3 linked regions of the Homo sapiens genome follow. The protein of the gene in region 2 interacts with the protein of the main gene of each other region in a pairwise test. Each region holds a gene or a part of one and is shown on either strand. Other genes may lie near its edges. The genes, in order: AKAP9, ICAM5 and KRT222.

Region 1 (3,751 bases), on a different chromosome or scaffold from region 2:
TCATCACCTTGTATAGAGTAAACCAGGGTAAGTGCTGGTAGATGCATTGATGAAAAAATATATAATCCTGCCTAAATACCTAAAGGCAGCTCACTTTCTAGTGGGGAAGACTAATATGCACAGAACTTAGAATATAATAAGTAAATGGGAGGTCACAGGAGTTAGCTAGTAATTTTGATTAGAGGGATCTAGAGAGGCTTCATGAGAGCGGTGTAGAAGTTGTTATTGACATACTTCACTCTGCCCCACTTTTTCTTATCCAAGATTATGTTTATCATATTTTGACCCTCCTAAGATGGAGCCTTGGAACTGATTCAAAGTAAATCAAAACTGGTGCTCCAAAAGCTCCTTGGGCCAAGATGGGGAAGAAGGTCGTAACTTGCTGCACCTGGGTCATGAAGCTAACACTCCCATTCCTTTTGAAACCAACGTTTTTTTGTCCCTGATCAAAGGGACAAGAGCTTCACCCACCTTGCAGCATTCCCAGCACATTCTTATTGCCAATTTAAGGGTCTTTTTGTTCTCTTCTTATCTCATCTGCCCTTTATTCTCTGTTCTTTTCTCTTTTCATTACTTCTCACCCTTTCTTTGCCTATCTGCTTTTCCCATCTACTTTTGCCTTCCATCTCCTTATACCCCATTTATCCCTCAAGCTGGAACCTGATGCTGGCAATATAAGAGACCTCTAATGCCTCTTGGGAAGGGGATGAGGGGATTTTGAGTCCCTATTCTTCCGTTCCAGTTGATTTTGTCACAACAGGCATTGACATAGTTTAACTGGGCAATTGTGAAATTTGACATTTGTTCTATGTTCATATTTAAACGTGTGATGTGATTTTTGTAGGAAATGTATATACTGTTTATAGATGGGCTGTGAAATTTTATCTTGGAATCTTTTTTAGAATGAAATTTTTGGTTCGACGGTGGCATCGAGTCACAGGTTCTGTTTCCATCAATATTAACAGAGATGGCTTTGGACTGAATCAAGGTGAAGTCAAAATAGCATATTTTCTTATGTTTATGACTCTCTAAATCAGAGGTCCCCCACCCCCAGACTATGGACCATACTTGTCTGTGGCCTGTTAGGAACCAGGCCGCACAGCAGCAGGTGAGCAGCGGGCATTACTGCCCGAGCTCCACCTCCTGTCAGATCAGCCGTGGCATTAGATTCTCATAGGAGCACAAATCCTATTGTGAACTGCACATGTGAGGAATCTAGGTTGTGTGCTCCTTATGAGAATCTAACTAATGCCTGATTATCTGGGGTGGAACAGTTTCATCCAGAAACCATTCTGGCCCCTTTGGGTCCATGGAAAAATTGTCTTCCATGAAATGTGTCCCTGGTGCCAAAAAGGTTGGGGACTGCTGCTCTGAATTACTGCATGTGTAATACTTACCAAGTAATGAATTCTGGAAGCAATGTTTTCCAAAGACAAAGCCCTTATAACTGCCAAAACTAGGTAACTTCACTGTTTTAAAGAGGGTAATAATAACTGATTTTCATGGAGAACTTAGTCTGCACCTGGCCATGCTCTTTTCATGTATTCTCCCAATCCTATGATATAAGTACAGTTTTACTACTCTCACTTTTAGATGAAAAATCGAGGCATGGAAAACACAAGTCATTTGCCCCAGAATGGCCAGTAGGGAAGTGATGGAACCAGGACCAAACACTGGCAGTCTGGGTCCAGAGCCCACACTCTTCATAACTGCATTTAAGGCACGGTTCAAGACAGGATTGCTGTTAGTCATATGGAAGAATTAGGAAGTTTTCATAATTTAACAATATTCAAACAAGTTTCTGAGTTTACCAACAGGTTGTATAATAATGGTAACAGCTAAAATTCCTTCTGTCTACACCTAGAAGTGGAAACAAACTAGGGCTTGAACATTTCTGGCAATAAAGATGAGGTCCGAATCTGGGGAGCACACAGAGGACACAGCATCCCTGTGCTGTGTATTCATAGTAAACCACCTTTACATACTCTACCAGGAGCTGAGCATCCTACAGAGGGGAAATAGATTTGGTACCCTACACAAAGTATTTTGAAATATCATTACACTGAAACAGCTGAAATTTGTACCATAATAAGTTGTGTTTTATTAAAAGTTAGCAAATCTTGGTTTCAAGTCAGTAGATTGGAATGGTTACATTGGTCTAATATTTTTTATCCACATCATTTCCCACAAGCCACACCCACTCAGACACCCCTCACCTCTCATCTACTTAGAGCTAAGGTCTTTAAAGAAGAAAATATGCCAATTAAATAATTTTCTTTGAGACATAATTCCAGATATCAGAAATACTCATATTCAAAAGTAAACAAAATAACATTTGAAAGCCGAATTTTTGTTTGTACTGTTTTCTCCTTTATCAAGAATAATAGAAAATGACTATAAATAGGAGATTGTATAATATAGTATAATAGTCTTTTGAGCAGTTACCTATTTTGTAGAAATTTTTTAAGGTCTTGGGATTTTATTTTTCTTTACAAGGAATATTTTGGGTTACTTTAGGTGCAGAAAAGACTGACTCATTTTATCATTCTTCTGGTGGGCTGGAGTTATATGGAGAACCAAGACATACTACGTATCGCTCAAGATCAGATCTGGACTATATTAGGTCCCCTTTACCATTTCAGAATAGGTAAGAATATGAGAAAACCTGCCTGGAATTGTTAAATGTATTAATATTTAACAGAGATAAATGGACATTTTTAGGGCTTTGACTTCTTTGCATTGAGATAGACATCTTTGTTATATATAATTTACATAATATGACCAAGTGCGGTGGCTCACACCTATAATCCCAGCACTTTGGGAGGCTGAGGCGGGCAGATCATGAGGTCAGGAGTTCAAGACCAGCTAGTTGGAGACTAGCCTGGCCAACATGGTGAAACCCTGTCTCTACTAAAAATACAAAAAATTAGCCAGGCGTGGTGGCAGGCGCCTGTGGTCCCAGCTACTTGGGAGGCTGAGGCAGGAGAATGGTGTGAACCCGGGAGGCGGAGCTGGCAGTGAGCTGAGATTGTGCCACTGCACTCTGGCCTGGGCAACGGAGCGAGACTCTGTCTCAAAAAAAAATACAAAAAAATTAGCCAGGCATGGTGGTGGGTGCCTGTAATCCCAGCTACTCAGGAGGCTGAGGCAGGAGAATCGCTTGAACTCAGGAGGTGGAGGTTGCAGTGAGCCGAGGTCACGCCACTGCACTCTAGCCTGGGCAACAAAGCAAGATTTGGTCTCCAAAAAAAAAAAAAAAGAAAAAAAATATACATAACCTAAGGCTTAATGTAAAAATGTAAAAACCAGTGTTTAAATTTGTAACTGATTTCCAAGGGTATAGCAAACAAGCTGACCAAGTGTTATTTAGTGTATGCTATGGTTAGATATTGGGAAAAGTATTGACTAAAATTGATACTCTGATCATTATGAAAAGCTTAACAGTCTTCATGACAAGATACATTTATACATACCCAATTTATTGAGACCTCTGCCACAAGCATTGTATTGGACATTCTTATGTTGACTTAGTAGCATCTTTGAATTCATTGGAGAGTTGTCTCTTTCTCATCCCAAGCTCCAAAGCTGAAGCTTGGAGGAGATACATTATGTGTGTACAAGTGACCCACCTTTTTGGGGAAGGGAGTGGAGGCAGGTTGGTAACTTATATGCATATTTCTGGATAACTTGATTCATGTACATATTTTTAATCCTTTAGGTACCCAGGCACTCCAGCTGATTTCAATCCTGG
Region 2 (3,751 bases):
CGCCTGCTCCCTCACCGTGTCGTGGAGGCGGAGCCATTTCTTACGTCTAAGCCTCTGTAACCCCACGCCCTGCCCGCAGACGCTCCCCGGCTAGACGATTCGGACTGCCCCAGGAGTTGGACGTGGCCCGAGGGCCCAGAGCAGACGCTGCGCTGCGAGGCCCGCGGGAACCCAGAACCCTCAGTGCACTGTGCGCGCTCCGACGGCGGGGCCGTGCTGGCTCTGGGCCTGCTGGGTCCAGTCACTCGGGCGCTCTCAGGCACTTACCGCTGCAAGGCGGCCAATGATCAAGGCGAGGCGGTCAAGGACGTAACGCTAACGGTGGAGTGTGAGTGGGGGTGCGCAGGGTGCATTTCTATCTGGTTCAAGGTCTGGAGGGTGGCCAGCCTCCAGGGAAGAGTAGGAGTAGGGTATGAGGTGTCCCTTTGGGTGAGGTTTTGGGAAAGGGAAGAGGCTGGTTAGTGGGGTTGGAGAAAGATCTTGGAGGATGGAAGGGACCGGGTGGGCGTGCCCCTAGCCTAGGGCGTGGTATTTGGGCGGAGTCGTGGAAAGGCGGGCAGTCCAGAGTGTTTAAGTTTTTAGACGAAAAAGGCGCCACTGGTGGCTCAGGAAGCTCCCAGACAGAGTGCATGCCTCGACTAGCGTGACACCTCCTTGGATCGGCGTCCAAGGGTTATGCAGGGACAACACTTCGTGGAAGCCTTGCCGCGCCAAGGAGGGTCTAGGGACGTCAGATTTGCCCCCAAACCCCAAAGCCAACAATACACTCCCTCCTCCAGACGCACCAGCGCTGGACAGCGTGGGCTGCCCAGAACGCATTACTTGGCTGGAGGGAACAGAAGCCTCGCTGAGCTGTGTGGCGCACGGGGTACCGCCGCCTGATGTGATCTGCGTGCGCTCTGGAGAACTCGGGGCCGTCATCGAGGGGCTGTTGCGTGTGGCCCGGGAGCATGCGGGCACTTACCGCTGCGAAGCCACCAACCCTCGGGGCTCTGCGGCCAAAAATGTGGCCGTCACGGTGGAATGTGAGTAGGGGCACCGCGGAGTTAGGCAGGATCTGTGGGACAACCCCGGCTGGACTTCCTGGCCCCCGTGTGAGCCCCTGCAATCCTGTTTCCCAGATGGCCCCAGGTTTGAGGAGCCGAGCTGCCCCAGCAATTGGACATGGGTGGAAGGATCTGGGCGCCTGTTTTCCTGTGAGGTCGATGGGAAGCCACAGCCAAGCGTGAAGTGCGTGGGCTCCGGGGGCGCCACTGAGGGGGTGCTGCTGCCGCTGGCACCCCCAGACCCTAGTCCCAGAGCTCCCAGAATCCCTAGAGTCCTGGCACCCGGTATCTACGTCTGCAACGCCACCAACCGCCACGGCTCCGTGGCCAAAACAGTCGTCGTGAGCGCGGAGTGTGAGCGAGGCCCAGGCGGGTAGGGAGCAGGGGTGCCCCACGGTCCAGGCACTCCCTGACATCCCCCATGGCTGCTTTGCAGCGCCACCGGAGATGGATGAATCTACCTGCCCAAGTCACCAGACGTGGCTGGAAGGGGCTGAGGCTTCCGCGCTGGCCTGCGCCGCCCGGGGTCGCCCTTCCCCAGGAGTGCGCTGCTCTCGGGAAGGCATCCCATGGCCTGAGCAGCAGCGCGTGTCCCGAGAGGACGCGGGCACTTACCACTGTGTGGCCACCAATGCGCATGGCACGGACTCCCGGACCGTCACTGTGGGCGTGGAATGTGAGTGGGGGCAGCACCGGATGGAGGGGACACGGTCCTCGGAAGAATGACTCGCAGCGGTGGGAGCATTCAAGGGCACCTCTCCCAATCCCATTCTCGGGGACAGGGAATTCCAGCCTAAACCAGGGGGTAATGAAAATTCTAGCCAGGCGCAGTGGCTCAGGTCTGTAATCCCAACACTTTGGAAGGTTGAGGCGGATGAATCACTTGAGGCCAGGAGTTCGAGACCAGCCCGGCCAACATGGCGAAAACCCGTCTCTACAAAAATTAGCCGGTCGTGGTGGTGGGCGCCTGTGGTCCCAGCTACTTGGGAGGCTGAGGCAGGAGAATCGCTTGAGCCTGGGAGGCAGAGGTTGCAGGGAGCCGAGATCCCGCCACTGCACTCCAGCCTGGGCAACAGAGTGAGACTCTTTCTTAGAAAAACAGAAAAAGAAAATTATAGGGAATAGGAGCACGGCCCTCCTCAAATCCTGGATTAGAACACTGACCTGGGCTTCACCTCCTTCCATTCGGTGAAGAAGGGCGAGGAATTTTAGCCGCAACAGCAGCCTGATTGTCGGGGAAGGAGGCTCTGATAGGAGGCAGGATCCTCTTCTGCCCATCAGAGGCGCGGTGGTCTCCCATCGATCGTTGTGGGCCGGAGCAGGGCATTTGATCAGTGGCTGGGCCGGCGCTAAGCCCCACTTCACCTTCTGTGCCCTTCAGACCGGCCAGTGGTGGCCGAACTTGCTGCCTCGCCCCCTGGAGGCGTGCGCCCAGGAGGAAACTTCACGTTGACCTGCCGCGCGGAGGCCTGGCCTCCAGCCCAGATCAGCTGGCGCGCGCCCCCGGGGGCCCTCAACATCGGCCTGTCGAGCAACAACAGCACACTGAGCGTGGCAGGCGCCATGGGAAGCCACGGCGGCGAGTACGAGTGCGCAGCCACCAACGCGCACGGGCGCCACGCGCGGCGCATCACGGTGCGCGTGGCCGGTAAGTGGCAGCTGGGGAGAGGCGGGGCGAGGTATCTGAGAGGGGGCGTGACCTGGGTCTTGGGGCGGCCGGCCCCGCCTGCCTCCCTCTCGGTCCCGGTAGACTAGACGGAAGTGGGACAGAGTAGAAGTCAAAGGTGCCTTAGCGGGTGGGGCTGTTGATCGCACTTTGAGGGGTGGGAGATGGAGGTGGCAGGGGGACTGAATTCAAGGGGAGGGACCCTCCGGGGCTGTCACTGCTGCAGGAAAGGACTTTAAAACTTGGGCTGGATTCTGCGTGGTGGAAACTTGACCCAATTCACAATCCACTGTGGGGAAGATTGGGGAGGGACCAAAGTCATTGGATGTTGGAGGGAGAGAGGGGTCAAGATCGCCTTCTCTCACTTCCTGAAGCTCCTGGGGCTGGGTTCTCTCTGGGGTCGGGGGAACCTGACCTGGTCCTGCCGGTCCTCATTTTTTGGGGGATGGGGAGAGTTGACTTGTCGCCAGGGGGCTAAGTGTGGTCACGGGTTTATATCCCCATGGGCTGAAGTGCGATATAAATCGGGACTCGGGTCGCCCTGGCACTGGGAGTGGCCTTATTGCATGGGTTGTCTCCCTTCTCCCAAGGCCAGACAGTGAGCTCCCCGGGGCATGAGGACTGACTTCGTGCCTGTGGGAGTGCGGGGGGCGGTGGGAGAAGCCCCCCGGAGCTTGGCCACCCTCCGCGAGGGTCTCCACCCCGCAGGTCCGTGGCTATGGGTCGCCGTGGGCGGCGCGGCGGGGGGCGCGGCGCTGCTGGCCGCGGGGGCCGGCCTGGCCTTCTACGTGCAGTCCACCGCCTGCAAGAAGGGCGAGTACAACGTGCAGGAGGCCGAGAGCTCAGGCGAGGCCGTGTGTCTGAACGGAGCGGGCGGCGGCGCTGGCGGGGCGGCAGGCGCGGAGGGCGGACCCGAGGCGGCGGGGGGCGCGGCCGAGTCGCCGGCGGAGGGCGAGGTCTTCGCCATACAGCTGACATCGGCGTGAGCCCGCTCCCCTCTCCCCGCGGGCCGGGGGACGCCCCCCAGACTCACACGGGG
Region 3 (3,751 bases), on a different chromosome or scaffold from region 2:
AGCTATTGAGCACTTTAAATGTGGCTGTTCCAAGCTGAGATGCGATGTAAGTATAAAATACACTTGGATTTCAAAGACAGTATCAAGAATAATGTAAAAGATCTCATTAACATTTTATATGGGTTGCTGCATTTTGGATATATCAAGTTAAATAAAATATAGTCGTAAAATTAATTTCACTTCTTTTTGTTTCAATCTTTTGATATGGCTACTAGAAAGTTTGGAAGGACATCTGTGGTTTGCATTTGTGGTTTGTGTTATATTTCCACTGGACAGTGCTGCTTTATTTAGGGTGCATAAGAAATGCTGGCAGACCTATTTAAAATGCAGATTGCCAGGACTGACCCTCCAGGGAATCTAGTTCAGCTCTCTGTGTTTCAGGCGGATATTAGCAGGAGCTACCTAAAGTAGCAGGAAGCATTTAATTCATTGCTCCCTGAATTTAATTTAGGAATTTAATTCATTGCTTTCTTCTCTCTCCTCCACTCCCAAGCCTAATTCTCTTCATATTTCTCAGTCCCAGTTACCAAGAAAGAGAATCAGTTTGGCCTAGATAATCATTAATGACTCTCTTTAGTCAGAGCTTTCTGTCTCAGCCTACTCCAAAGGTCTCTGACCAATCTATAGATAATCAAGTTGTGACTGATGGGGAAGGTGCAGGAGGTAGGGAGGGGTGGGTCAGAAATAACCTGGAACCTCTCCTCTCACCAGGAGCTGTGGGTAGGACAGCTTTGTTTGGAGAGGGCTGTGAGAATGCCCAGCATAGACTGGCCTGGCCAGATGTGAGTTAATTCAGAAATTAAAAGAGCAGGACATGCATGCAAAGGCCCTGTAAGGGCTAGAACCCAGGTCTGATTATCTCCTGAACTGTGCTCCAGATACAATTCAGCCAAAGCCACTCCACAAATAACAATAATGATAGATCCACTCTCACGACATATTTCTGTCACATCTAGCAACCAGCTGGCAAGATTAAACCAGGAATTTAGAAGGGGAGAGAGAGAACGCAGAGGCAGATATGCAGGGGTAATACATGGAACACAAGCAAGTTGTCAAAGAGCCAGTCCCAGTGATGTCATACATCACTGAGCAACCTTGGGCAAGATGCCTCAACCTCTCTGGCCTCAGTCTTTTCATCTTTACAGGTTAGAAAATGTCAGGGATTGCAAGGATTGGATGGAATGATACGCCAAATACACCCTCCGAAGGGCTCAAGTGATTGCAACGATTGGATGGAATGGTACACTGACTACACCCTCCAAAGGACTCAAGGGTTCTTTTGGTGAATACACCAAAAGGTCTATTTCTTCATCCTTGTTAAAACTTTGGAAATGTTAACTCACAACTCTCATAGTCTACCAGCACTTATCTGCAACATTTTGAGAAAACTAAATATAATTTTCTTTTTTTTTTTTTTTTTTTTTTTTGGAGATGGAGTCTCACTCTGTCACCCAGGCTGGAGTGCAGTGGCTCAATCTCGGCTCACTGCAACCTCCACCTCCTGGGTTCAAGCAATTCTCCTGCCTCAGCCTCCCGAGTAGCTGGGATTACAGGCACCCACCACCACGCCCAGCTAATTTTTGTATTTTTAGTAAAGACAGGGTTTCATCATGTTGGCCAGGCTGATCTCGAACTCCCGACCTCAGGTGATCCACCCACCTCAACCTCCTAAAGTGCTGGGATTACAGGCATGAGCCACCATGCCCGGCAATTTTCTTATGTTATGCCCCATTTCCTTTTCACAAAAATGAACTCCCCCTCCCCTCAAAGTGCTCAATTTTTACAGGGAACCAGTACAGGTTTTTGAAATTTTCCTTTCCTTCATGAAGAATCTGACATTTCTACTATACCAATAACAATAGGAGCAAAGAGTTTACCCTGTATTTGCATAATTAGTTAGAAAGATGAGAATTTCCGTGGCCTCCGAAAAAGGAGCTCTGCATCTTTAAAACTCTGCGAGGCTCCCTGCCTTCCGCGCAGACCGAGCAGACTGCCGCAGCGACTCATCCTATCGATAAGGTTCAGTTAGCCAAGGTGGAGGATGGGAAAAGAATGGAACTGTCCCAGCTACTCAATGAGATCAGGGCAAACTATGAAAAGATCCTCACCAGAAATCAGATAGAGACGGTGCTCTCAACAAGGATCCAGGTAATGATTTCATACAGACAGGCACCTTCCAGAATAAGGAGACAGTCCATGTCTACCCAATTCCTGTCCCGGCCTCTCTGAGGTACAGTATTTCCTTTTCGATGCAGCATCTATTGGGGAAGGAATTTAGCTTCTACTGCAGTGTGACTGGGACTACAGGGGGAAATACTGTGATTATATTGTTAAATTGCCATTAAGTAAGTGTTGATTGATGCATTTGATTTTTATATAAATTGTGAGGTTCCTATCATTAACATGGGGTCAACATACCATAAAATGGTGCACTCTAACCTCTTACAATCTTCAGGAAGGAACCATTCCAAATACCCTTCAAAGATATTATTGGAGTTATTTACAGAGATAATTTAAATAACATCTTTAAAATGAAAAATCTTTAAGTAAGATTTATTAGCATGTACACTTTCTAGAGATATTTCTAAAAGGTTTCTATCATCTTTTTAACGAGTTCCATTTTATACCAGATTGTTATAAATAGAAATCATCTGAGTGTGTGAACATGGCATTCAGAAACAATGATATAAATTATGACCATTGAAATTCCCCAAATTGGTAACGATTCTCCACTAAGATTTTTGCTTCTGTACTATAAGATGAGAAACATTTCTTTCCATTACAAAGCTTGTAATATTTAAGTATTTAAAAAAGAGAAAGAGAGCCTACTTAGATAAGGACTAAATCCTAATTTCATAGACTTAGTTTTAAAGTAACAATCACCTTCAGCAAGTAATTAAGGTCTCAAGTCTTTAAACAAATTTACAAACAAATATTTTAGAAACAAAGATTAAGAAATTTAGGGGATTTTTTAGTTTACCTATCATATATGGGTTCAAGTTATCTTCCAAACCCTGAAATACAGCAAAAAGTTTACTTAAGAATATCACCCAAAATTTTAAAAAAAAAAATTGGTAGAAAAATGTCAGGCCTTTATTCCATTAGCCACTCATTTTTAGTTCCATTGTAAATTTCACCTCTAGATAACATTTTCAGCCTTCATAAAGAATGATCAACATCTTAGATTAAGCAAAGTCACTGGTACAGGTAAGCATTGGGATAGTTCATTCACCTTTACAAACAGAAGAAAAAAATCAATAGATGACAACTTCTAAAAATCATAAACAAAACACTTAACTTTGCAGTAGTAGAAATATGAGTTTAGTTTACAAGTCACAGGGCCAAAATGAGTAAATTCAAATGAAAAAGCAAGACTACGGTGAGTTTTGTTTAAAGTGTCTTTTAATTTGAAACTACTTTAGAGGATTTTCTTCCAAATAACTCAGAAAGTCAGCTGAAATAAATTCAAGACAGCCTGATTAGTTATTTTTTTAAATTTCTAAATAAGCTATTTTAGTTACAGATTGTTGTATAACACCCCAAAACTCATCTGGGACCTCAATCGTCTTGGGGCATGACTGGGCTCACTTATGTGTCTGGCACTTTGGCAGGGCATTGCCGAAAGGCTGGCTCTGCTGGGACTTTCTCTCTCACTTCACGTAGCCTCAGGGTCTCTCTCCATCTGGCCTTTCTACAGGATCTCTCCAGCAGGGTATCCAGACTTCTTGCATATTGGCCCAAGGCTCCCAAA

What was found.
Region 1: the proteins of ICAM5 (region 2) and AKAP9 interact in binary tests that used the Homo sapiens proteins (3 or more experiments, as listed by UniProt).
Region 3: the proteins of ICAM5 (region 2) and KRT222 interact in binary tests that used the Homo sapiens proteins (3 or more experiments, as listed by UniProt).

The regions. Positions count from the first base shown.
Region 1 is NC_000007.14:92,104,776-92,108,526, forward strand, and holds part of AKAP9 (A-kinase anchor protein 9), read left to right. Parts: intron 1-902; coding exon 903-988; intron 989-2,517; coding exon 2,518-2,647; intron 2,648-3,718; coding exon 3,719-3,751. UniProt on the Homo sapiens protein: Scaffolding protein that assembles several protein kinases and phosphatases on the centrosome and Golgi apparatus. Required to maintain the integrity of the Golgi apparatus. Required for microtubule nucleation at the cis-side of the Golgi apparatus.
Region 2 is NC_000019.10:10,292,919-10,296,669, forward strand, and holds part of ICAM5 (intercellular adhesion molecule 5 precursor), read left to right. Parts: intron 1-79; coding exon 80-328; intron 329-779; coding exon 780-1,025; intron 1,026-1,121; coding exon 1,122-1,400; intron 1,401-1,482; coding exon 1,483-1,722; intron 1,723-2,427; coding exon 2,428-2,694; intron 2,695-3,420; coding exon 3,421-3,698; 3' UTR 3,699-3,751. UniProt on the Homo sapiens protein: ICAM proteins are ligands for the leukocyte adhesion protein LFA-1 (integrin alpha-L/beta-2).
Region 3 is NC_000017.11:40,663,401-40,667,151, reverse strand, and holds the start of KRT222 (keratin-like protein KRT222), read left to right. Parts: upstream 1-1,974; 5' UTR 1,975-2,052; coding exon 2,053-2,148; intron 2,149-3,751.